Linked DNA regions of Homo sapiens: regions 1, 2, 3, 5 and 6 are each linked to region 4. Evidence: fine-mapped expression QTL. A gene starts in region 4. Each other region holds a variant in brackets. All regions are shown on one strand. Distances are between the middles of the regions.

Evidence for each region. PIP is the estimated chance that this variant, and not a neighbour inherited with it, causes the effect.
Region 1: its variant is the best candidate, but not a certain one, in a credible set for the expression of IQSEC1 in esophagus mucosa (GTEx, PIP 0.51).
Region 2: its variant is the best candidate, but not a certain one, in a credible set for the expression of IQSEC1 in whole blood (INTERVAL, PIP 0.89).
Region 3: its variant is the best candidate, but not a certain one, in a credible set for the expression of IQSEC1 in whole blood (INTERVAL, PIP 0.80).
Region 5: its variant is the best candidate, but not a certain one, in a credible set for the expression of IQSEC1 in nasal epithelium (TOPMed, PIP 0.69).
Region 6: its variant is the best candidate, but not a certain one, in a credible set for the expression of IQSEC1 in whole blood (TOPMed, PIP 0.81).

The regions. Positions count from the first base shown.
Region 1 is chr3:12,938,439-12,942,539 of GRCh38, forward strand. IQSEC1 (IQ motif and Sec7 domain ArfGEF 1) reads right to left here. Exons shown (of 14, transcript NM_001134382.3): 2 at 3,133-3,427. All of the region lies in intron 4 of LOC105376956 (a long non-coding RNA gene), which reads left to right. Among named protein-coding and RNA genes, the nearest start is that of LINC02022, 55 kb to the left of the region's middle. The variant T/C (reference allele first, on the strand shown) is at 1,935.
Region 2 is chr3:13,014,197-13,018,297 of GRCh38, forward strand. All of the region lies in intron 1 of IQSEC1 (IQ motif and Sec7 domain ArfGEF 1), which reads right to left. Among named protein-coding and RNA genes, the nearest start is that of IQSEC1, 57 kb to the right of the region's middle. RefSeq lists enhancers at 1-188, 189-688, 946-1,714, 1,018-1,097, 1,715-2,482 and 4 more. The variant C/T (reference allele first, on the strand shown) is at 2,288.
Region 3 is chr3:13,026,099-13,030,199 of GRCh38, forward strand. The region is part of intron 1 of IQSEC1 (IQ motif and Sec7 domain ArfGEF 1); the gene reads right to left. Among named protein-coding and RNA genes, the nearest start is that of IQSEC1, 45 kb to the right of the region's middle. RefSeq lists enhancers at 715-1,216, 1,217-1,716. The variant A/G (reference allele first, on the strand shown) is at 2,178.
Region 4 is chr3:13,071,566-13,075,666 of GRCh38, forward strand. IQSEC1 (IQ motif and Sec7 domain ArfGEF 1) reads right to left here and starts at 1,864. Exons shown (of 14, transcript NM_001134382.3): 1 at 1,427-1,864. The coding sequence starts at 1,449. RefSeq lists silencers at 1,780-1,939, 2,060-2,239.
Region 5 is chr3:12,975,167-12,979,267 of GRCh38, forward strand. The region is part of intron 1 of IQSEC1 (IQ motif and Sec7 domain ArfGEF 1); the gene reads right to left. Among named protein-coding and RNA genes, the nearest start is that of LINC02022, 92 kb to the left of the region's middle. RefSeq lists an enhancer at 3,884-4,101. The variant G/C (reference allele first, on the strand shown) is at 2,098.
Region 6 is chr3:12,747,734-12,751,733 of GRCh38, forward strand. It overlaps TMEM40 (transmembrane protein 40), which reads right to left. Exons shown (of 12, transcript NM_018306.4): 2 at 2,027-2,107; 3 at 922-1,059. The coding sequence starts at 2,099. Among named protein-coding and RNA genes, the nearest start is that of TMEM40, 9.5 kb to the right of the region's middle. RefSeq lists an enhancer at 1,568-1,617 and a silencer at 1,888-2,037. The variant G/C (reference allele first, on the strand shown) is at 2,269.

The DNA of each region.
Region 1 (4,101 bases), 130 kb before region 4:
TCCCAGCAGGCTGGGTGGAGGAGAAGAGCTGGGGGGGCTTGAGGGGAGCAGATCAAAATGACTTTTCCAATCCCAGGCCACAGTCTGTTTTCTCTCTCGCCCTGTTACTGAACGCCATCCAAGAAATGACCTCACTTCCACAACTGTAAGCAGAAAGTTTCTATTTTTTGGGTTGTGAGTGGAGCTTAGAAAGCCCCTGGGGCCCATAAGAGGCCCAAGGCTGGGATCTAGGAAGCCTTTCTTCCCTCACTGTACTTTGTGGGCGGCACAAGTACGAGGACCTCCAGCTCAGGCCTAGAGCTCCCCGCAGGGCCTTCTCACCTGCTGGCTCCGGACCTCGCAGACCACGCAGCCACCCTGTTTTCCTGAGACCTCCTGCCCAAACCTGTGTGTGTTGGGGGCGAAGGGACTTCAGGAAGGCAGCAATGGGCTCTGCATTTGTTCACCAGAGCCCCTGGCAGTTCCTCCCCCAGGGGGACACACATGGACCTGGGGCTACTCTTCCTCGTCCCCAAACTTACCGTGGGTCATTCTTCTTTCTGGGATGGAACTATTGCCAGGCCCGGTCGAAAAGTTTCCCGGGACCCAGTGGATGAGATTCTACTAACATGTGCTCATCTACTATGTGTGCTGGGGACCCCCATACCCTCATGCCACCTCACAGCAGCTTCTGCTCTCCCGAGGGGTTTCACTACCCCACTTCTCAGCAAGGACAAGACACTCAGCGGAGGGAAGACGCTCAGCGGAGGGAAGCCGCTGCCCCAGGGCACATGGTTCCTGGATAGAGGAGTCGACCCCGTGGCCAGGGCTCCCCCATCCGGCCCTCACTTGTCCCTTCAAGGGAAACTTCTGAGCAGTACAGAAGAGGAACCCGGAAGAATGCCCTTCAGCAAAGCAGAACTGTCACTTCTTGATGACACAGGGACAGTACCTGAAACCCACTCAAGTTTCCTGCTTCAGGGACAGAAAGCCACTGGAGGGCACAGTGGGTCAGGGGCCAGAAGAGCACAGGAGACTAGCCCTTGGGCTCCTTTCACTAAAATGGACTCTGTGTTATCCAGACTTAAAACTCCTCGTGGAATCGGGCACCCTACTTTTTCATCTGGTGATTCCCATGCAATCTGTCCCATTCCCACTTTTGCTGAGCTTTCCAGGAAGCTCAGTGGACCATCAAATGCTCAGTGGCCCTTGATGTCGCCTCCTCCCTCTTACCTCTTTGGAACCTCTTCCAGGCCTTCCTTTCCATTTCACACACTCGGCAGCCTTTACATCAGCTGTTGCCTCTTCCTGGGACAGCCAGCTCTAATGCCTCCTTAGAGAGGTCTTCCCAACCAGCCTTACCCAATGCTATTGCCTCCCGTAGCTGCCCTATTTCTTTCCCCAATGTTTAGAATCCCTAGAGTTTGCATTACTTTCTGGAAGTCAACTGCCTCTGCATTGCTAACTTGCTCCTGTCCAGCTCCTGTGCCACAGTGGAGCTCAAGAGCAGGGGCCTCGCCTTGGTCATGGGCACCCAACACAGTGTCTGGTGCATAGTGGGCGTTCAGATAATATGCATGGAATGAAAATGAATAGCTGCAGTCCTATTAGGCCCACAGTAAGCATATAATTCTCTTCAAAGGCCTCTATTAAGTCCCAACCTTTCTCCTTTCTGTTTAAATGGCTCTGTTGCAGACATCTCTTACTATAAACCGTGGTCCACTTTGGATCTGGGCATCACGGATAAAGGAACAGAGGTTGCTCTGCCCTGTGTCGGTCCGGCCTAAGTTGCAAGGCAGCACCGACAGCCAGGTGAGGAAGGGGCTGATGGGGGCTTCCCTGTCAAGAGAGTGGACGACCCCCAACCCCAGGCAGTATCTGCACCACTCCCTTAGGAAGTTGGGGCACACCAGGCCCAGAACTCTACTCCTTAAAGGACAAAAAGGGGAGCAACT[T/C]GAATCTATACTCCCAGCAAACACAAACAAACAAAAACAACCCAAAAATTGTTTTTAAAGAAAAAGGATAACCAGGAAGATCTGGGAGCAAGCAGAGGGCGGGCGGGGCCACAGGATGGGTGTGGGTGGGAGTGAAGGCCAGGGGCTTCTGCAGCATGGAGTCTGGGAAGACGGGAAAGGGCCCTGGGGCCAGCAGGGGCAGAGGCAGCTGCCTGGGCATCTGGAGGAGCTGTCTAGAGCTCAGTGCCCAGGAGCTGGGGAGAGTCTGACAGCCCTCCCCAGCCTGCCCCTGCAAGCTTGCAGAACTGCTGCCTGGGAGCCCGGGTTCTCTTGAAGCCTCAAACTGCTAAGCGGCTTGTCCATGCACTGGCCCACTCACCCCCTCACTCATCCATCTGTGCAGTCACTCAGATCCTCATTCAAACACCTACTGTGCACCTGCACTTGGAGGGACTTGGAAGCGAGAGCTCTTGGCCTCCCCAGGGACCGCTCAGGGCCTCGCTCTTTCCTCTGCACCCCAGGATTCTCCTCTCCTGGCTCAACCCTGAGAGGCTACCTCTTGTCCTCCCTCAAGCCCAGCCCTAGGCACACTGTGGGTCTGGGCCACCTCTAAGGGCCAAGGCCCCTGGGGGAGGGGTGCAGTCTTCAATGAGGGGATTTCCCACAGGAGCAGGGAGGTGTGAGCCAGGAGGAATAGAGCAAGCAGCCTCCCCTGGCTGGCTGCCGATGGGGTTCTTTCCAGAGCTTGTGATATTTATGCTGTCAATGGACCTCCCTCCCTCAGCCCTCTCCTGGGTCTTTAGAACCTCAGTGGCCGGCCACGTACCCAGTGTGTCCCGATGACACTGGGCCTCATGCTCAGACACCTATCATGGCCCCCCAGATCTGGGCCATGCGGGTCATGGAACCCGGGCCATGGCAAAGGCCTCATGTGAAGACAACTCTCTAGAAGTCCCCAGAAGGAACGCCAGACAACCCAGGTCCTTCATACACGCCAGCCAGAGCCAGCTGGGGCAAGAGGCTCCTGAGAGCAGCTACAGGTGGAGCTGGAACTGGGGCAGAGCCCTCAGCCTTAGCCCACATGCACCCCAACTCAAGTCTATGGGAGAGATCTGCCACCATGCCTGGTGGGGGCACACATGGTGGGCAGAGCTGCCCTGCGCTTGCATGTGTGGCCTGAGGGGCTGTGCTCTCCTACCTGCTTGTCCTGCAGGTCCGAGGAGAGCTCATAGCTCTCGGAGAGTGAGCGTGAGCGCTTGATGGCCTCCTCCTCAGCCTGCTTGCGCAGGATGGAGGTCGAGTGCTGCAGCTTGGGCCTCCGCGTGCGCTGCTGTTGCCCCGGCGGCCCCGAGTACAGCCCATAGGCTCCCACTGACGTGTGCTCGTAGTGATCCGGGCTCAGGCTGGAACCGGGCACCAAGGGGCCCTGGGGGTAGGCTGAGGGGCTGTCCAGGGATGTGCCAGTCTCACTGCTGGGGGCCTCGCCCTCGACGCTGCAGAGGAGAGAGAGGTGAGAAGCTTCTGGTAAGCGGGAAATCTGAACACGACACCGGGCCGTGGGGCGTGACCCCACCATGCTCCTGGAGGAGCCCCCATGCCCGTTCTTCTCACACCCCATGGCTGAGTCCACATGTGCAGCTGGCAGGACCCTGCAAAACCCCTCCACTCAGCACCCCACCCACTCGGGTTCAGTTTCTCTGTGAAGTGCACCATCCTCTGACATCCCATATACCTTCCTCATTGATTTTGCTCACTGTCCATCATCCACATGCAAATGCCAGCTCCCTGAGGACAGCAGTTTTGGCCACTGGGTCGCTGATCACCCCCAGAGCCCAGAGCAGTGCCTGGCACACAGCAGGTGCTCAGCAATTACTGACTCAGCGAATTCTGTCGCCTTTTCTCCTACCACCTGCATTAAATACACCACTGATTTTAAACTTAAAAAAAAGGCCGGGCGCGGTGGCTCACACCTGTAATCCCAGCACTTTGGGAGGCCGAGGAGGGCGGATCACGAGGTCAGGAAATTGAGACCATCCTGGCTAACACGGCGAAACCCTGTCTCTACTAAAAAATACAAAAAATTAGCCGGGCGTGGTGGTGGTCGCCTGTAGTCCCAGCTACTCAGGAGGCTGAGGCAGGAGAATAGCATGAACCCGGGAAGCAGAGC
Region 2 (4,101 bases), 57 kb before region 4:
CCTAACCAGCCTGAGGGGCACTGTGCCCTGGTAAATCTCTCAGTGAGATGGGAACCCAGAGTCACCTACGCCCACAGGGAGATTCCCCACAGAGGCCTGCTTCACCATCTAAGCCTCACAACAACCCCGGAAGGGAGGACTTTCGCTATGGGTTATATGGAAACCCAGGCCCAGAGATGTTGGGACATCTGTCCCATGTCACATGGCTGGGGCACACTGGGGAGCTGGGATTTGAGACAGAGTGACTGACCCCTCAGGGCACTGAGCAGCCTTCTGTCTGCAGCGTGGGGGCAGGGGTGAAGGTGCCCATTGCTTCCTTATCACTGGGCCTCACTTTTTCCATCTGCCACTGGTTGGGCTCCAGTCCTAAGGAAAGGGCTATCTGTCTTGCCTGCCCCCAAGAGCCAGGGCTGGGGTGGGGGAGGCTTGGCTGGGAGTGAGAGCTCCCAGGCTGCTCCCTGAGGCTGGGTCGGTAAAAGCTTCCTCTGACCCATCTGTTGAACTCCCTGATGACCCCAGTGAGCCAGGGGCTGTTGGCCCAAGGACCCCAAGAGGTCAGGCTCAGGGGTTACAGCTCAGAACCCAGGGAACATCCCCCAACACGCTCCCAGCCCCAGGGATCTACAGATCCTCAAGGTTCCACTCTGGATCATTTCAGAAAGATACTGAACTTGTCAGTGGGTCAAGGGGCTCCTGGGGGGACACATACTGGGCTACTGCCAGATGGGAAATGGCCCCAGCGAGCCTGGGGCAGGGAAGACTTCTGCAAGGCAGTGTCTCCTCAACACAGCCTGGGGAAGCCTTGTGTTCCCTCAGCCATAAACCTCCATTTGCTCAAAGTTTATGCACCATAGGGTTGAGGGGGGCAGCAGTGTGGGAAGGAAACACACCAAATATGCTCCAGGAGCCCTGGGCCACTGTGTGACTTCTGAGGGCCTCTGAGGACTTCTGACTTCTGTGTGACTTCTGAGGGCCTCAGTTTACTCGGCTGTAAACTGGGCATTGTCAAGAGTCCATCTTTCTCAGGGTGGTTGTGAGGGCCGTAGGCAGCGACCCAACACTCCCTGCCATCCAGGTGGGCTGCGGGGCCCTGGTTCTCAACCCTAATGGGGCCTGGGGCTGGTCTAACGCGCAGGGGAGCTAAAGAACTTCCCCTTGCGGCTGTGGGGAAACACCTGGTGTTCCTGGGCCCAGGGCGAGCCTGTGTGCATTCCAGGCAGTGAGAAACGGGTCACAGAATACAGCTCTGAGAAACAGTGAAAACTCTGACGACAGCCCCCAAGACCCTCACCACGGCAGGCTGCCCTGACAGTCGCCAGCCCCTCACAGGTTTCTCAGGGCTGCTGAGGTCCCCTCCCCGGGCCAGGTGGGTGGTACTCACAGTCTCAAAGTGGAGGGGGCGGAGGTGTCCCTGGAACCCCAGTGCCTGGCCTGCCTCTGCGGCCCCGGGGGATGAGCTGTGGGTCCATCCCCACAGCAGGTCCTGACGTCTGACTTCCTCCCTGCTCAGTCGGCATCCAGGAAACCACACCCAGGGGAGAGGGTGCCAGGCACCCTGGGGCCCCCGCCCACCTGCCCTCCAAAAGGCCCCCAGGCACTGCTGAGGGGGCTCCTTCCAGGTCTGGCAAACCCAAATGGCTTCACTGGGCAGGCCCCAGTCAATAAATAATACACCCACCTCCCTGGACAGTCTCTGGTGCCTGATCGTGTTTCAGGGCCACTTAAGTTCCAGGCAGACTGCTTTGTTCAGAGTGCCGGGCCCCTTCTGGGTCTCTGGCCACATGGGCACTGCACTGTCACGGAGGGCCAGCTGGAGCCAGCAGCATAAAGTAGTGTGACAGGGGTCCCTGGAGAGAGGGTGCCCTACTTACTTAGCAGCTTGGGCCCAAAGGGGACCCAGGGGTGGTGCCAGGGTAGGGTGGCCAGTCTCGTCTCCCCATGGCCAGGCAGGGCCCCCCACATCCCCCACAGGGGTGCCATCTGGAGAGCCGCCACCAGCCCATCCTGACATTGCCAGTGTCCGGGCCCAGGCCCCTCCTCCAGGAAGCCTCCTCTCCGCCAGGAGTGCTCTGTCCCTGTCTGAATTCCCACTGCAACCGCCAGCCAGTCTGTCTGTCTCCTTCTTTGGGTCTCAATTGTCATCTCTCATCTAAACAGTGGCCGGCCGCCACATCTCAACCGGCCTTCCCTGCCCCCAACGCCCCACCACTCCCTCTCCACAGTCTCATTTCCTCACAGCAGCCCGGGTGACGGTTTTAAAACAGAAAGCACAGCAATGTTACCCAGC[C/T]GTGGCTCTCCCGCCCCAGTCAACTTTCAAGCCCTCTCCAGGATCTGGCCCTGCCACCACGGGGACTGCTCCTCCCGCCCTCTCGACTCCTGCCAGCCTCCTCCTCTGTGCTCCTCCTGCAGGTGCACACAGACCTCAGGGTCCTTACACCAGCTGCTCTCTCTGCCTGCTCTTCCCCAAGGTCCTCACAAACTCACTCCACCCTGTCACTCTCAACGCAAGGCCACCACTGCAGACGAGTCTTTGTTTTCTTTTCAAACAGTCTTATTAAGATATAATTCACACACCATACAACTCACCCATTTAAAATGTATAGTTCAATGATTTTATTAATAGTATATTCCCAGAGGGGTGCAACTGTCACCACTATCTATGTTTAGCATATTTTCATCACTCAAAAAGAACCCCTCCCCAGCCCTGGATCACGGCAAACCTACCTCCCGTCTCTATAGATTTGCCTGTTCTGGACATTTCCTAGAAACGGGACCATACGCTCTGTGGTCTTCCGTCTGGCTTCTTTCACTTAGCATGATGTCCTCAAGGTTCACCTGTGCTGTAACACGTGCCAGAACTTCATTTCTTTTTGTGGCTGAATAATATTCCACACTATGGACAGACCACATTGTGTTTATCTATTCATCCACTGACGGCCACTGGGAGAGGCCCTTCTTGACCTCCCCAGGCCATGTGGCTCCCTCTCCCCGATCACTCTGTCATCCCTCCCTGTTTTATTTTCTTGGCACCGATCTTTGCCTGAAGGCATCTTCATTTGTTTATTTTCTCTTTATCATTTCTCTCTCACCTGAACATCTATCTGCTCCAGGAGGCCTGAGTGTCCACCTCACTCACTGCTGTATCCCCAGGGTCTAGCCCGGGGCAGCAAACAATAGGTGCTCAGCAAACTACTTGCTGATCAGCGGAAGAAAGCCTCTTCCCATGTGTCAGAGTGGCTCATGCCCATGCCGCCTTGCTGCTGGGCTCTGAGCTCTCGGCGACAAGTGCTGCCCTGTGGTGCTTGCCAAGAAGAGCCTCACCCACAACTCCGGTGAGGAAACCAGTAACGCAAAGCCTTGGACTCAGGTCCTCCTCTGTGCTGTGGGACAGTGCTCCTCACAGGGTGGGCGCTAGCTGGCTGGATGTGGGAATGGATAGTTAGCACCTGGCACAGTGTCAGGCACAGAGTAGGTCTTCATCCCCTGAACGAAGACTCGATGCAGGGAGAGGGGGCGGCAGTCACTAGCAGAGATGGGAACCGAGGAGAGGGAGGTGAGGCTGGCAGGGCTGAGGCAATGGTGAGGCCCACGGGTGAAAGGGGAAAGCAGCCATAAGGGAATTTATGTGTGCTCCAGGCAGTGCCCAGAGCCAGAGAAGTGGCGGCTCTGCTCTGCTCTGCCCAGGACCTCCTGCCCATCCCAAACTCAGCTCTGGGCTCTTCCCGGAGATAGACAGCACGAGCCAGGGTGTGTCCAGAAGGCGTGGGTGGGGAGGAGGCTGGTGACCCCTTCCTCAGCCTCAGGGAGTCCTGGTCTCTGCAGGCTGTCCAGAGCTGGGGAGCAGATGGGTTGTGAGGCTCAGAGGACAGGGCCAGGCCACTTCAGTGTGTGGGTGGGTGGCAGCGAGCACCGCAGGAAGGATGGTGCCAGTTCCAAGTGGGAACAAATGTCCTCGCGTCAGAGCTGCCTAGGCATGGCCCAGGCTGGGAGGTGGTGAGCACTCTGTCCCAAGAGGAACGCCCACTGGCCCTCCTGCAGAGGGGCATCAGATGGCTAATTGTCCAGGAAGCTCCCTGGAAGCTCTCAAAGGCTGGCTGCCAG
Region 3 (4,101 bases), 45 kb before region 4:
CAGGAGGTGGAGGAGAGAATGATAGGTCAGGGTACTCGTTGCCTCAGCTCTGTCCTCGCTTCCTGTGCCCCTCGGCAGCCACAGTCCTGATGGGTGGCTGTTTGCACCCAGGTCTCTCTCTTTCTGGTTCATGAAACTGTTCTCTCCCCCAACCCTCTGGCCCAGGGCTGGTTAGGGTTCCCCCCTTCTGCCAGCCCAGGTGTCCAGTTCCCTTAACCCCATCCCACCCTGCACACAGCCCCATCACGGGCCACACTGCAAGGGAGCTTGTGTAGTGACCCATGTTTCCTACCAGGACCCAATGCTCAAGGCTCAAACTCAGACGACACCTCCTCTAGGAAGCCAATTTTCCATTGGCTTGTTCCTTCACCCAGTCAACATTCATTAATTGGCTTACTCTGTGCCAGATATCACTTGAGGATTTGGTGAACAAAACTGTGGAGCCTGGTGGGGCTGGCCTTCCTTCTGTACCAAGGGAGCAAATGAAAACGATTTCCCACAGTGGGCTGTGCCATGAAGAAGGCGTATAAACTAGATCATTTCTCTGGATGATACACTTCCCTTCTCCAGGAGTCCATCCTTTTTTGCCCTGCATCCTCTCCGTTCCCTGAGCCTGGACTGCAGCCATTTCTTCCCTGCACTTGGATGACCTGTCTCTGCATCCCTCCCTCACTGCTCTGAGAGCTCACATGAGCAGGTGAGGAGATCTATGTAGCTTAGTTCTTTGCACAATCACCCTATGAAGTAGCAGTTATTATCTCCCCAGTTTTTTTTTTTTTTGTTTGTTTTTTTTTTTACCAATTAATAAACTGAGGTTCAGATGCTGAGGTTAGTTACTCAGGATGATATATAAACCCAGCTCTGCCTATCTGACTCTAAAGCTAAAGCTCTGGAGGCTGAAAACAAAATAAATCACTTGTCATTTATATCTGCAGTCTTCCAATGGTGCCCAGAGCCATGCAAGGCGCAGGAAGGCACATACACCGAGTTGGCCGAACTTCAAAACCCTGGATCCCCCTTCTCAAGAAGCATTGGCCTTTTGAGGATGGGTGCTGGAATGCCCGTTTTCCAAATGGAAAAATGAAAGTCCAGGGTGCTGAGAGCGTTGGGTCTTGGAGGACAGTAGTGGGCTCCCAGCCTCCCAGGCAGCTGGCATCCTGAGTTCCACCATCTTGTCTCGGGCCTAGGATGGCCACTAATATCCAGTGCGCAGGCAGGGGCTGGGCACTCACTTCAGGGCAGGAGCTGGGAAAGAAGGCAGAGAAGAGCTTCCGCAAGTCCATCTTATGGAGCACAAAGGGCCAGCGTCCAAGTTGCCAGACTTGGCCTGCAGGGCCTCACTTTACTTGCTGTGCAGAAAAGAGACCGCAAGGGGGCAATGGCCAGGCAGGGGCCAGGGAGGAACTGTTGCTTGGACTGGGGTGGTGGACAGGAAGGTGAGGACAAGAGGTTGGATTCTAGAGACATTCTCAAAGTGGAACTGGTAGAAATGTCTGATCAATAAGATGAGGAGGTGAGAGAGAAAAGAGGAGTGGAAGATGATGCCTGGGTTGCTGGCCTGAACAACTGGAAAAATGGAGGTTCCATCCACGGTGACAGGGACACAGGGATGGCCAGTGGGAGCAGGTTTGGAGGGATGATGAGGCAAGGCAGAACGGGGGGACTCCGACTGGTCAAACAGAACAACTGTGGCTTGGCTCTGGCTGATGGCTGCTCTGTAGGAATAAGGGCTCTGATTTTTCAGATATCAGAAATCCAGGTTTTTACGTAACAGCTCTTGATTTTTATATGTTTGCAATAAATTCAAATTTACAATGATATGTAGGTTAATCCTATGCAAGCCAAATAAAATACATCTGTGAGTGTCTAGCCCACAGGATACCTCTTGTATCCTCCGCTCCTTCTTGTCTTTCAAGGTCCACTTAGCTGCCTCCTCCCCCAGGAAGCTGCCCATGATTGCTTCAGCTCCAGAGACGCCTGTGGCCCCTCAAAGCCCCGCAGGGCTGATAATCCCAGACTGGAAGTGACAGGAGGACAAATAGGGGGTTTGCTTATCCATTTCTCACGCCTCAAGCATAGGGTTTGGCCCAGAGGGGGAGTTAATGAATGAATACCTGCCGAATGAATGAATGAACAAGTAGCTCACTTGATCCCTCTGCCCTTATTTTGCAAATAAA[A/G]CTGAGTCCCAGATAAGGGACATGACCTGCCAGGGTGGGATCTGGGGCCAGGGACTGCTCACCGTCTGGCCTCTGTTTGTCAGCTGTCCCCCGAGGCTGGGCCAGGCTAGGCCGGCAGGAAGTATAAAGACAATTGCACAGTCTTATCGAGTTATGCCATGGGAGGGTAGAAACAGGATCCTGAGCAGCTCTTGAGCATCTGGGTAGAGGCTGTTTGGGGGATGTTTTTCCAAGAACTTGCTAAGGTGACCCCAACCGGGGTCAGGGCAGAGCCAGACCCTAGAACTGGGTGCCTCTGCAGGTGGCATGGTCATGGGACAGATGACACCCCAGATGGAAGGACTCACATTAGCAATCAGTCAAAGTGACAGCCAGTCCCCATGGGTTGTCCCTTCTGAGGGTTCTGACACGTTTCCTTTCAGCCATGGGGAGGGCAGATGGTACTGGGTTTGACCATCAGGGTTTGTGCTCAGATCTTCTATGCAAGGAAATCAGACAACATAGGCACCGGAGGCTCTGGCCTCATTCTTCAGTGTTGGAGATGGAGAATGGAGTCTCAGAGGTGGAGGCGACTTGCCCTGAGGTCACACAGTAAGGAAGCCGCAGATCTGGGACTCCGGATCAGAAGTCCTGATTCTGAGACCTGCGCTGGCCAAGGGATCCTCACAAGCCGTTCCTCACACCTTCTGGCCTACCTCAGTTTCTTCATCCACAACATGGGGAGAAAAATAGGATCTATCTCCAGGGGTTGTGAAGATGAAACAAATGGAAGGAGCTAACGCTGTGTGACTGTACTGTGTAAAGCTATATAGAAGATCACGAATATATAGCAACTGCCCTTCTAAGCCTCTAGCCTTGAAAGTTTCTGGCTATGGCCGTCTTTAAAACTTCCAGGGTGACACAGCTCTCCATCAACACAACAAGAACGGTGATACCTAAGGGCTACTGAATGGTTCCTGTAGCCACTGCTCTATGTGTGACTAATTCATTTAATGCTTAGGCTCATCCCATGAGGTAGGTGCTATTACTATCTGATCTATAGGATAAAGAAAGGAAGGCAGAGAGAGGTCCACAGACACGCCCAGGGTTAATACAGATAGAACATGGCAGGGTGGGGAATTGAACTGAAGCAGCTTTGTTCTGAGACATGCTTCATAACCGCTACATAACACGGCTCTCCTCGGCTGGCTTGGAAGTCTTTCTCAATGTCTAACCTAAATCCTTTTTGTTGCAGGCTGTGCCTATTCACTACCCCCTTCCTTAGACAAAGAAGAAAGCTGCTCCCTTCAATCTCCATTTTGTTGTGCTGAGAGGCCTCAATTCTTTAGCCCCTGTATCCTGACTCCCTGGGTCTTGCCGTCCAGGTCAAGGGGGGCCAAACAGGAACCCTCCCCTTGTGCGTGAGCGTGAGTGTGTGTGCGCACATGCGGTGTGAGATGTGTGTGTGCGTGCATGCGTGCACGTGTCCACACAAATCCCCTTCAAAGAGGACTGGTGAGGACTGGTAAGGACTGCAGCACCCTGGGCTGGGTCCTCACCTCCTCACTGGCCTCCCTGCCTCCTTTCCTTGTCATCTGCTGCCTCTGGGCTGTTTCCCAATACCCAGACCTGTAGAGGTAAGTCTGCTGCCTGAACCTGCTCCATGGCTTTCCTCCATTCCCAGACCATTCCCAGCTCCACCCTCGTCCCACCTTTATTTATTTATTTATTTTGAGATGAGGTCTCGCTACATTAACCAGACTGGTCTTGAACTCCTGGCCTCAAGTAATCTTCCCATCTCAGCTTCCGGAAGTGTTAGGATTACAGGCGTGAGCCATCATGCTCTGTCTAAAATCTTTTTTTTATACAGTCTAACTCTGTCACCCAAGTTGGAGTGCAGTGGTGCAATCTCTGCTCACTGCAACCTCCACCTGCCAGGTTCAAG
Region 4 (4,101 bases):
ATTTACTATTTGTTTCAGAAAATGCAGCGAGGGCCTTGCCACAGGGAGTGAGAACTTTGGTGTGCTCTGCTCGCATCGACAAACCAACCTGTGAGCTTCTCCACTAAAAAAGCAAGTGAGCATCACAGCGAACCAGAGGCCACCGTCATCCCTCGAACCAGAGGCCACCGCCATCCCCCAAACCAGAGGCCGCCATCCCCCGAACCAGAGGCCACTGCCATTCCCTGAACCAGAGGCCACTGCCATCCCCCAAACCAGAGGCCACTGCCATCCCCCAAACCAGAGGCCACCGCCATCCCCCGAACCAGAGGCCACCGCCATCCCCCGTGGGTTGCCGCCTGGCACTGCTGACGCAGCAGAGGCAGAGGTGTGTTTACTTTCCCTCAGTGGAGGTGACGGGGAGCTGCCACTCTATCAGGGGTTCCACAGGCCCCTGCCATGGTAAGGGGCCTCCATCGATTAGGGAGGCCTTGGGGTAGCCCCCAGAAGGCTCCCCACATACTGCTCCAGGCCTCCTTTTCCTAGCCTTGCGACTGAGCCCAGCTCAAGAGGACTCAGCCATGCTCTCTAACCTCCTAAGGTCTGAGGTCACTGCACAGCCCCAAATGAGTGGGTCCTGGGCAAATAGTTTAGGCAGGTGGAGACCTGACGCTGGGCCTCAACCCCCGCAGCCGAGGGTCCCAGAGGAGGGCAAAGGTTGCTCCTCCTAGAACAGCACAGTGCAGCGCCCAGAGAGCTGTGAGGGAAGCTGGCATTCGAACCCCACTGCCCCCTGGGAAGCCTGGCTAACCGAAGCGCAGGCTTTGGTTTCCATAAATACCCGGGCCCGTGATGTCACCGCCCCGTGCAGACTTTCACAGCCTCTGCTGCTGGCGTGAGGCCCAGCACACAGCCGCTCTGCTGCCAGCCCACAGAACACCTGGGCACACAGCTGGACACTGATGCCTCCGTGCTAGGGACGGTGGGCTGGACCTTCACCTGCCCTTGGAGGACGCAGCATCCTGGCCACTGCCTCAGCCTGCCTGCGACCTTCTATCAGGCATGGCTGAAGGGCTGGCCATGGGCGTGCTGGGCAGAGATTCTCTTCCTAAACAGGCTATGGGCTAAACCAAAGCCAAAACAGTAGGAGCCGGTCTGGGCACCCTGAATGTGGATCTGGGAGGGGGGATACCTGCTCTCACAGTTGGGAATTTCACAGCCTGCTGAAGACCTGCTGACTAATAGCCTTTTTCTCATCGTCATCACCAACAAACACCTCCGCTGCAGGGGCCGAGCGCCGGCATCCCTGCTGGGTGGCCAGCTCCCTCTGCAAGTCACCTGCACATCCACCTGCCCCTCCCCCAACGATGCCCCTCACTCCAGCTCCCAGCTCAGCCGGGCCCCTCTGGCCTCTGGCTTCAGGCAGAAACCTGCCACATATACTCACAAATAGCGTCTTCTGCAAGCCATCCTGTGTGAATCCGTTCTTCCCTGTTCTGGCTCCCTCTCCAGCGGGGAGGCTCAACGTGTTTCCAAGAGGAGCAGGCGGCTCAGGCAAGAAGTGGAGGGGAATAAAATTAAATCGCGGGGCGAGTCACATTCCCGGGGGTGGCGGGCTCCTCCAGGGAGGCTGGGGCGGGAGCGGGGGGCGGCGCCAGCAGCGGGCTGTGGAGGGCCCTGGCACGTAGCGCGCGCTCACACCGTGCCCAGGAGCGAGCGAGGACGTCGAGTAACCGTGGTCGCCAGGCTGGGCGGGGGCGTCCACCTCGCTGCTACCTGGGCCCACCTTGGGGTTTTTCCCTCCCGTCCATCCGGGGTGCGGGGCGCGGGGATGAGGAGGGGAGGGTCGAGAGAAGGCTGCCCCGGGTTTGCTCTCGCAGCATCCGGAGAAGGGGCGGGCGCGCCGGAGCCTCCCCCACCCCCCGCGCCCAAGGAGCAACGTAGTGCGGCCGCGCCGGACCAATCGCCGAGGCGCTGGTCGCCATGGCAACAGCAGCATCAGGCGCGGCCGCTCGGCTGCGCCCTCGCGGCAAAGTCACACACCCGGCGGGGCGCGGGGCGCCGGCCCCTTCCTGGCCCGCGCTGGAAACCTGGAAGTCTGTTGCTAAAATGCACGCGCCGCGCGGAGCCTACGATGACACTACTTTCCAAGGCGGCTTTTCTGCCTTCGGCACTGAGACACGCGAGCCGCGGAGCTCTCGGGGCTCTGGCCCTGGAGTGAGGCCGGCCGACTCCAAGGCTGTCTCTGCCACTGAAGGGCGATGAGACCTTGGCAAGCCGCGTCTCTCCTGGGAGTCTTGATTATGCTACTGTGAAAGGGATCATAACAGCTATACCACGGGGTTCCAGGAGGGCGCACCACGCCAGTAGCTGCACGGTGGATGGCAGAGCAGTCCTCGTTTGTGCCAGTCCTGTCCCAAAGGGGGCTGCACGTGGCTAGGGAGAATTTCTGGTCTAGCTATGGTGCCTCTTCCTCTCCCGAGGACCTTCCATGTGCCGGGCAAGTATCTGCCCTCATGATGTTTACAGTCTAAGGGGAAGCCAGGAAGTAAGTGTGCAGATATAGGATTGCACGTGGTGATAAGGATCAGGATGAAAAGAGAGCAGGAAGAGGGGAGGCAGGGACCCCAAGAGAGGCGGGAAGGAGGCTTCTGCCATCAGACGGGGTGGTCGGGAAGGCCCTCTGTGAGGCACGTGTGGCTGAGACTCGGATGACGCAAGAAGCAGGGGAGGAGCTGGCGTCAAGGCTCTGAGGCGGAAGGCAGCCTGGTGTATTTGACTGGCCCAGAGGAGGCCAGCGTGGTGCAGTGTGCGACAGGGAGGTGGAGGGGAGAAGCGCACATCCATCCTCGGCTCCCACACCCGCCTTTCCCACACAGATTTCTCTCTTCCTGTCTGATGTTCATCTGATCCTCTCTGCTTCCTCATCTGTAAACCAGGAATCCCAGACCTATCTCAGAGGCATGTAGATAATATTCTTCCGTGCACGGTAATCCTCAAGACAACCCCAATGAGGCCTAATACTATCATCCTACTTCACGGGGGAGCGCATTAAAGCCAGAGGTTCAGCAACTGGCCCAAGCCACATAGCTGGCGGGCAGTCTGGCTCCAGAGTCTTGGTTCTTGACTGCTTGAAAGCTGCCTCACTGGGAGGAATAAATGAGAGAGGGAGTAGTTGAGACTGGGAATCGGCTGGATGTGGATGGCAGCCCACAGGGCCATTTCCCTTCCTCTTTCCATTCTCTCCAGATTCACACTCACCGAATTTAGAAGGAGTGATGCTGCATCCTTGAGTTCCATTCCATCCTTTACAGGGGAGGAAATGAACCTCAGGGGGTGAGCGATTTGCCTAAAGTTGCACAGCAAAGAGTGGCAGAGGTGGGACTAGGACCCCAGTCTTCCAGCTCAGTGTCCTGGTAGGGAGCAGAGGTTGGAGCTGCGGCCTCAGGTGGCCAAGGTGAGGCATCGAACAGAACTGCATGACGCTTCCCGATCTGCCCTCTCCAGGTGAATCCATATGCATGACCAATCTTCCTGTAGCACGGACCTCCCTCCCTGAGTCATGTGAGGAATTCATATTTCTGTGGGTTAACATGTTGCAGAGCCCACCCCACCCCTCTCCTCACTGGAGTTTCAAAAGATTTTAATAACATCAAAATTCAGCCACTGCATCAGGAGGGCTCACTTTGTGTCAGGTCCAGTTGTTTCATGGTCTCAGTGAATTCTCAGAAGCGCCCTACGAAGTGAACATAATTACCACTCCTGCTTAGATGGGTTGCACCACATACGGGGGTCTCCCATCAAGGCAGCAGCAGAGCCCAGACTAACTCACAGCCTGGCTCGGGCTAGAGCAATGCCCCTCTCAGCCGCCTTGCTCAACTAGCGATTCTCTTCTCACTTCCATCTTCCAGAGGCGGAAACAGGCTCAGAGTGGTGAATTGGATGCCTTGAGTGTGGAGCACCCAGTGTCCCTTTCCTGGGCTTCCTCTTTTGCTCCCTGGGAGGCCCATGACATGCATCTGCACATCCGTTGCTTCTTCAGCACTTCTTCTTATAAACGTACTCTCCTTTTCCTTCCATGTTATGCTGTTATTTCAAAGCAGAGGAAATGGCAAGGACCCT
Region 5 (4,101 bases), 96 kb before region 4:
CCTCCCCTTGCTTCACTATGGCCCTGGCACCTTGTACGGGGGCAAAAGTGCAAGAGGAGCCAAGGTGTGTTGAGTGAGTAAGCACCTTTTCCAGCCATTGGCTGCGTCCCATAGTGGGGATGCTCATGGCTTACGGAGGCTCCATGTTCTGGAGCATGATCTTGAATCTTGGGCAAGTGGTTTGGTCTTCCTAAGCCTCCTTTCCCAACTCTCTGCCTCTTCTTGCCTCTTCCTGCAGCCTCCTCTCACAGGGCACACAGTCTGGACCAGGCACTTTACAGAAGTGTCCACACTTAATCCTCAACAACCTTCCATTTTACAGATACACTGAGACTCAGAGAGGTTGAATAACTTATGTAAGGCCACACAGCTAGTGCCTGGCTGGATCAGGGATTTGAGCCCAGGTCCATTTGGTCCCCAAACCATGAACTTAACCATGAAGCTCCACAGTCCCTCTTTCCCCATATCCAAGGTGCTTATTGAATGCAGGTTCTGTGCTAAATGCATGACAGGTTGTCTCATTTAAGCTTCACAATGGAACTCTAAGGTAGGGACTATTCTATCTTCTCATCCAGAAAAAGAAACCAAGGCTCAGAAAGATTAAAGAATTTGTTTAAGGGCAAACAGCTAGTGAGGGATGAGAACCCAGGACTGAGTCCCAAGTTCATTCTTACAACACTATTCCATCTGACCTTCAAGGCCCAGGAGGAAGACCTCTGCGGGAAGAAAGTCTCTGCCTTAGCTGATGTGTGAGTAACCAAAGCAACCTTGGCATCTGCCCCCCAACGGCTGCAGAGGCAGACTCCTGGCTCGGCTCCCTTCTTGGCTGTATAGCCTTGGGCGTCACTTCTCTGAGCCTCAGTTTCCTCCTCTGTGAAATGGAACTGAATAATCTATGTCTCTTAGGTTGCTGAAAAGAATTCAGTGAGCCATCCGGTGCTGGGCCTGAGCGGTGCTCTGCTTACACCCAGCCTGCTCCCTGAACCCCACTCCCAGAGTGTACACCACTCCCCGCTCCCTTTGCTGTACTCTCCTCCTGGGGTCTGCCCCTGGCCCTCTGGAAGGGAGTGACACTGGGGAAAAGCAGGAGGGGGGCAGCAGTGGCCGCCCCAGGAGGGACTCTGCCAGCCCTGCTGAGCACACCCCACAAGCCCAGGTGGGGTCACAGTGGGGAAGCGGTCCTTGCCTTTTCCCCACCTCTTCCCCGGCTGCCTGCGCCTCACCATTCCTCACTCAAGGAAGCACATCCTCCGGTGGAGCCAACACTCACAGGGTCCCTTACAGATCCCCCTGGGAGCCTGGGACCAGAGCAGAATTGGGTTCTGCAGCTTCCAAGCCCCACCCTCAGGCATAGAGTCTGGGAGACAGACCTCATACATGAAGGGCTCTACGACAATACATGTATGTTCTGTCACTTCTTCCTCGGGACCTTCCTGAACCTTCGTCCACATTCTCTCTGTCTCATCGATTCCCTTTAAAGCCCATCTCACAGTCCATCATTATCTGGCTTAATCACTTATGTACTCACTGTCACTTCCACCAGAAAGTAGCTCTGCAACTTTGTTCATTTGCCACTGTATCCCCTGCCGTCTATAGCAGGTGCTCAATAAATGTCTGCTGGACAGGTGAATCATGTTGATCCAGATTCACTCTAGTTCAGGGACCACCCACAGGGCTAAGGTAGGTCTCCTTCCCTCTCCCCATGCTTATCCTTGTCTCAATCTCAGCAATTCCCTGCACCCCACCCCTCTTTATACCATAGAGAGATTCTGGAAGGGCTGGAAAAATGGTTTTTCAAAATCACTGATTCTCATCTCTAGTGTGCTAGGAGAGCTCAGTATTTAAAGGAACCCATCAGCTAAAGATTTTATTTAAAAAGGAGGCGTCAGGCTGGGCACAGCAGCTCATACCTGTAATCCCAGCTGAGGGATTACAGGTGGGAGGCTGAGGCAGGCAGATTGCTTGAGCTCAGGAGTTAGAGACTAGCCTGGGCAACATGGCGAAACCTCATCTCTACTAAAAATATAAAAAATTAGCCGGGTGTGGTGGCACATGCCTGTGGTTCCAGCTACTAGGGAGGTTGAGGTGGGAGGATCA[G/C]CTGAGCCCAAGAGTTCAAGGCTGCAGTGAGCCATGATTGCACCACTGCACTCCAGCCTGGGCAACAGTATAAAATCCTGTCTCCAGGGAAAAAAAAAAAAAGCGCTATCCCGTTGGCAAAACGAATGGCCATCCTTGGTATACTTCGGTTTCTTTCCTGGTAGCTTTACCAAAACTGGGGCTTATCTGCATATGAAAATGGGTGGAGAAACTGAGGGAATCTAGAAAAAATACAGAGAGAAAGCTGCAAGGGCTTGCCCTCCTTCAGAACATCTCACCTGGATGTCACTGGCTTAGACACCGTGGCAGGGCCGGGGCTGCATTCCTGGTAGCTGTTGGGGAGACAGCCTGCTGCCTTTTATGTAGTGAGTTCACACCAAAGAACAGCTACCAAGGGAATGCAGGGCCTCTGCTGTAATGAATAGATACGTTCATTTATAATAAGTGCTGGGTTCACCTGTTTTGTAAATGGATGCCATTAAGTGCTCCTAAATCAACAGCGTCTCCTAAGTGAGTTAAACATCCCTTTTTGCAGTCATCTTTATGTTACTGATTTAAACAACACCTTCTTTTGTCCCAGTGGAAGGAAGACCTGACCCAACTCCACTGATTGAGAATTAATGGAGGCAGGACATGTGTGACGTGTGATTCACTGTTTGAATAAATCTGTCATTGAGAATGTGTGCATTCCTGAATGTGCTCAATAACTTCCCAGCATACCTTCCCACCTACTATGTGTTAGGCACTAGGCATCTCAGAGGCTGCAGATGTGGGCCCTGCCCTCAGGAAACTCGGTTGGGTAAGGGGAGTGAAAGTAATTCACAATTGGCGTCAACTACATTCCTGCATGAGTTCACATAATCCTGACAGAAATTCTACAAGGTGCGGATTGTTTTCTGATTTATCACAGAGGCCTTGAAGCCTAGAGAAGGTAAGTAATTTGCACTAAGACACACAGCCCATGTGATGAAGCTGGGATTAGAGCCCAGTAGGCTGACACTCAGCCTGTGTTCCTTGCACTCCAACAGTTGTCCTCAAAGTGGGGTCCTAGAAACAGCAGCAGCAGCAGCCTCAGCTGGGAATCATTTGAAATGCAAATTCCCACCCCCCAGATGACTGTAATACCTGCAGCAGTTTAAGAATCTTTGCACAGGGCCGGGCGCGGTGGCTCACACCTGTAATCCCAGCACTTTGGGAGACTGAGGCGGGCGGATCACATGGTCAGGAGTTCGAGACCAGCCTGGCCAATACGGTGAAACCCCGTCTCTACTAAAATAAAAAAAACTACAAAAATTAGCCGGGCGTGGGGCGGGTGCCTGTACTCCCAGCTACTCGGGAGGCTGAGGCAGGAGAATCACTTGAACCCTGGAGGTGGAGGTTGCAGTAAGCAGAGATTGCACCAGTGCACTCCAACCTGGGCAATAGAGCGAGGCTCAGTCTCAAAAAAAAAAATAAATAAATAAAAAAGAATCTTTGCACAACAGTAAGCCACTAAAGCCACTAAATGCAGTAATAGGAGCAACCTGGTAGACAGGCAGGAATGATTGCTAGCTGGTGGATTAGTCATTCAGGGAAGGCTTCCTGTAGGAGGTGATGCCTGTCTTGGGATTTGTGGCATGAATGGGAATTCACCGGGTGGCCCAGCAGGATAAAGGCATTGCAGGTACATGAAGTGGCAAGGGCAAAGGCTTGGTTAACTTGGAAAATATTCCTGTAGTTCTGCATCTACATGGGGCATGAAGTGTGGGGATGGGTGCGCTGTGGGGCATGAGGCCAGTGGACCGAGCAGGAGCTTCATCCTGTGAGGGTGTAAGCAGGAGTGGGAGTGACCTGGGTTTAGTTTTCCCAACAACCACATAGCACCTGTATACATTCCAATTACTTAACGCTCTTCATTCTATCAAGAAAACTTTATATCTGCTCCACAAGTGAAAAGCCAGCCTCACTAAGCATAAATTGAATTTTCCCATGAAAATAAATCAACAAAAACAAAATGCTGTTATA
Region 6 (4,000 bases), 320 kb before region 4:
ACCCTATCTCTACTAAAAATACAAAAATTTGGCCAGGCATGGTGGTGGATGCCTGTAATCCCAGCTACTCGGGAGGCTGAGGCAGGAGAATCGCTTGAGCCCAGGAGGCGGAGGTTGCAGTGAGCCAAGATCACGCCGCTGCACTCTAGCCTGGGCAACAGAGCAAGATTCTGTCTCAAAAAAAAAAAAAAAAAAAAAAAAAAGATGCTATTGGATGTTGTTCCTCTAAACCCACTAAAGTACTTGCAAGGACTCAATACTTAGGAATGATTTGCACAAAAATTCAAAAGGCAAAAGCTTTCGCACAAGGATGCTCATGAGCATGATAAACCTGGGAGGGGAAGACCATAACACAACAATTACTTTTAGAGCTTTTAATATGTGCTACATGCTAAGACTTTACCTGTATAACGAATTTCATCCTCACAAGAATCCCATGAGGTATTATGTATTGCTCTCATCCCCATCTTCTAGATGAGGGCACTGAGGCGCCAGGGGTTGAGCAGTTTACCCAAGGACGTGTAGCTACTTAGTGGTAGAGACAGGATTTGAACCTGTAACACACGCTTTGACTATGGCACTGGGGTGCCTCTAATAAACCTAAATGTTACTTTACATGAGATGCAGCCACTTGAGGGGCTGTTCAGTAAACATTAAAAATAGCTACAGCGATATTACAGAACAACATGGCTAAAAGCTTAGGATAAGATGGGGAAAATTTTAAATGGAGGACAAAATTGCCTATACGATCAATGATAACTGTGTACGTAGAAGCACATGTAGACAGATCGGCTCTAGAAGAGAATGTGGAGAAACGGTATTGGAGTTTCAAGTACTTCAATGACTTCAAGTATGGGGGATTATTTCCCCATGTAAATCTTTTTCTTGAATAATATACATATATTTAAATCTCTGCTATACCTGAGGAGGAGGAGGATGAAGAAGATGAGGAGGATGAGGAGGAAGAGGAGGAGGAGGAAGAAGACTTGTTTCTCTCATATTGTTCTTGGGAAAAGAGTCCAGCCTTCCCATCTTGCTTGTGGAAATCTGTCTCTCCATCTACAAGGCACACAGAGGCCAGGGGATGAGCGTTTCCCACCCTTCCCACCCCAGGGACCACCCAGTCCTCTCCAGGGTTCTACTTGGATTTGGAGAGCCAGGAAGGACTGGATTATCTTCCCAAATATCTAGAGCCAATGCAACATGCAGGAGACCAAGGCTCTCAGAGATGCCAGGGGCTCACGGAAGGCTCAATACAGAGATTTATCTGAATATGGACTCAGAAAAGGGGTTTCTTTCTTTTTTTTTTGAGACGGAGTCTTGCTCTTTTGCCCAGGCTGGACTGCAGTGACGCTATCTCGGCTCACTGCAAGCTCTGCCTCTCGGGTTCATGCCATTCTCCTGCCTCAGCCTCCTGAGTAGCTGGGACTACAGGCGCCCACCGCCACACCCGGCTAATTTTTTGTATTTTTAGTAGAGACGGGGTTTCACCGTGTTAGCCAGGATGGTCTCGATCTCCTGACCTTCTGATCTGCCCGCCTCGGCCTCCCAAAGTGCTGGGATTACAGGCGTGAGCCGCCGCGCCCGGCCAGAAAAGGGGTTTCTAAGCCCCCTGCCTTGCCCAGAGACAGCTAGATTCTGTAGAGTAGTTGCTAATTTAGGATCCTCTGTACATTACAGCCAAGATGAGGTGTGATCAAGTCCTAAACCTTCCCATTCCCCATTCTGGGGTCACACAGGACCCTCTCCACCTTCTAGGGGTGCTCCCTAGTGCCAGCCCAAGCCCCCAGAGAATTCTTGAGATTTGGCAAGCAGCTGAGGGTCCCCATAGCTAGACAGCACAGGAGGACAGATTGGACCATGCAAATGTGTGTGTGCATGTGTGTAAAACCACTACTTCCCCATTTCAGCTGTGATTTGAGGCCCTGTGCAACGTGAGTTGAGCAGGGTCTTCTTCTGTCCCTTCTACTTTTGGACTCCACCTCCCATGTGGTTTTGCCCAGAGGGTCAGAGAAGGCAAACGTACAGTCTACATCTTCTGTTTCTCTGTGGACTTGACTGTTGTCCTGAGGCTGGGAGGAGGATGCTGAAGTCTCCATGGCTTTTCCTGGAGGAATAACAATAATCAGTAGTTAATATCACCTTAGTTAATATCTTAATATACAAAGAGCTTGGCAAATAAATAAGAAAAAGACAAACACTCAACATTCAAAGGAATAAGAAAAATAATTAACAAAAAAAATGGTAGTTCTGTTGGCAAGCAAGAAG[G/C]CCGGGGTAGTGGAGGGAGGAGGGTTAAGGGAGTGGGAATTGGGGTGGTGGGTATTGGTTAGGCAACTAGCAGGGGGCTTCATGAAGGAAATCAGTTTTTATCTGTGCCTGAAAAGTCAGGCACAATCCTTTTTCTTTTTCTTTTTTTTTTTTTGTGGAAACAGGGTGTCTCTATGTTGCCCAGGCTGGTCTTGAACTCCTGGGCTCAAGCAATTCTCCTACCTTGGCCTCCCAAAGTGCTGGGATTCAAGTGTGAGCCACCATGTCCAGCCTAGGTACAATTTTGACAGGAATGCAGATTTGAAGTTGGTGAACCAACTCCAATCCCACAAACATGGCCAACATCCAGGAATGACTAAGCAAAAAGGCAAGGGAATCCTGGGCCCCGGCCGGCCTCACACACAGAGCCACCTGCCACCTCTTGACAGCTACGTGCACAGGAAAGAAGTTTCTTTTAATGGAGCCCATGTGCTATGAGTCTCTGTTATAGCAGCTGAGCCAGGAAGTGCAGGCTTCCTTCTGATTCCTTGCCCTATTTCTTCTTCTCTCAGCTCTGAGGCTGAGACCTTAAATCTGAGAGGAGGTAGATTTACTAGTCTCTGATTCATTTATTTTTTACTTCTTTATTTGAGACAGAGGTCTTGCTATATCACCCAGTCTAGTCTTGAACTCCTGGGTTAAGGCAATCCTCCCACCGCAGCCTCCTGAGTAGCTGGGACTACAGGCACGTGCCACTGTGGCCAGCCTCTGACTCATTTAAACCATGTTTCTCAGCCTCAACACGACTGACATTTGGGACAGGGTAACACATTGTGAGATGTTTAGCAGCCTCCTCCCAGATGCCAGTAGCACTTTCCTGTTCAGCTATAACAATAAAAATGTCTCCAGACATTGCCAAATGACCCCTGTTGTGGGGCAAACATCACCCCCCATTTGAGAATGGTCTAGAGAATCTACCACAAGACCTTGGCAGGAAGCCTCCTCCCCTGTGTCTTAGAGCCAGATTGCCTGGGTTGGAATCCTGCCTCTGCCTCTTCTAGCGATGGAAGCATGGGCTAGTTACTTAATCCTTCACTGTGCCCTGGGTTTCTCATCTGTAAAACGGAGACAGTAATAGTGCTTACCTTATAGTATGTGAAAATGGCAGGACAGTCCTTAGCAGGGCCATTGTGAATGCGTGTTTCCTTCTCTACAGGCCTCCTCTTACCCTTGGACATTCAGTGTCCAGTCCCATCCCTGCTCATCCCCCATCTCGTAGGCCCCAGACTCCATTACCCGTTTTTTTTTTCTGTTTTTTGAGATGGAGTCTCGCTTCTGTCGCCCAGGCTGGAGTGCAGTGGCATGATCTCAGCTCACTGCAACCTCTGCCTCCCGGATTCAAGTGATTCTTCTGCCTCAGCCTCCGGAGTAGCTGGGATTACAGGCGCCACACCATGCTTGGCTAATTTTTGTATTTTTAGTAGAGACGTGGTTTCACCATATTGGCCAGGCTGGTCTCGAACTCCTGACCTTGTGATCCGCCCGCCTTGACCTCCCAAAGTGCTGGGATTACAGGCGTGAGCCACTGCGCCTGGCCTACCCTTTTCTAGAATAAAACTTCCCATTTCTCAGAGCAGAATTCAGCTAGGCATTAGGAAGTCACTAGCCATTAAAATGCATCGATATCGAGATGGAATGACTGACAGCAGAAGCCTCCAGGGCATATTTCTATTTTGAACAGGGTTCTCTGCAC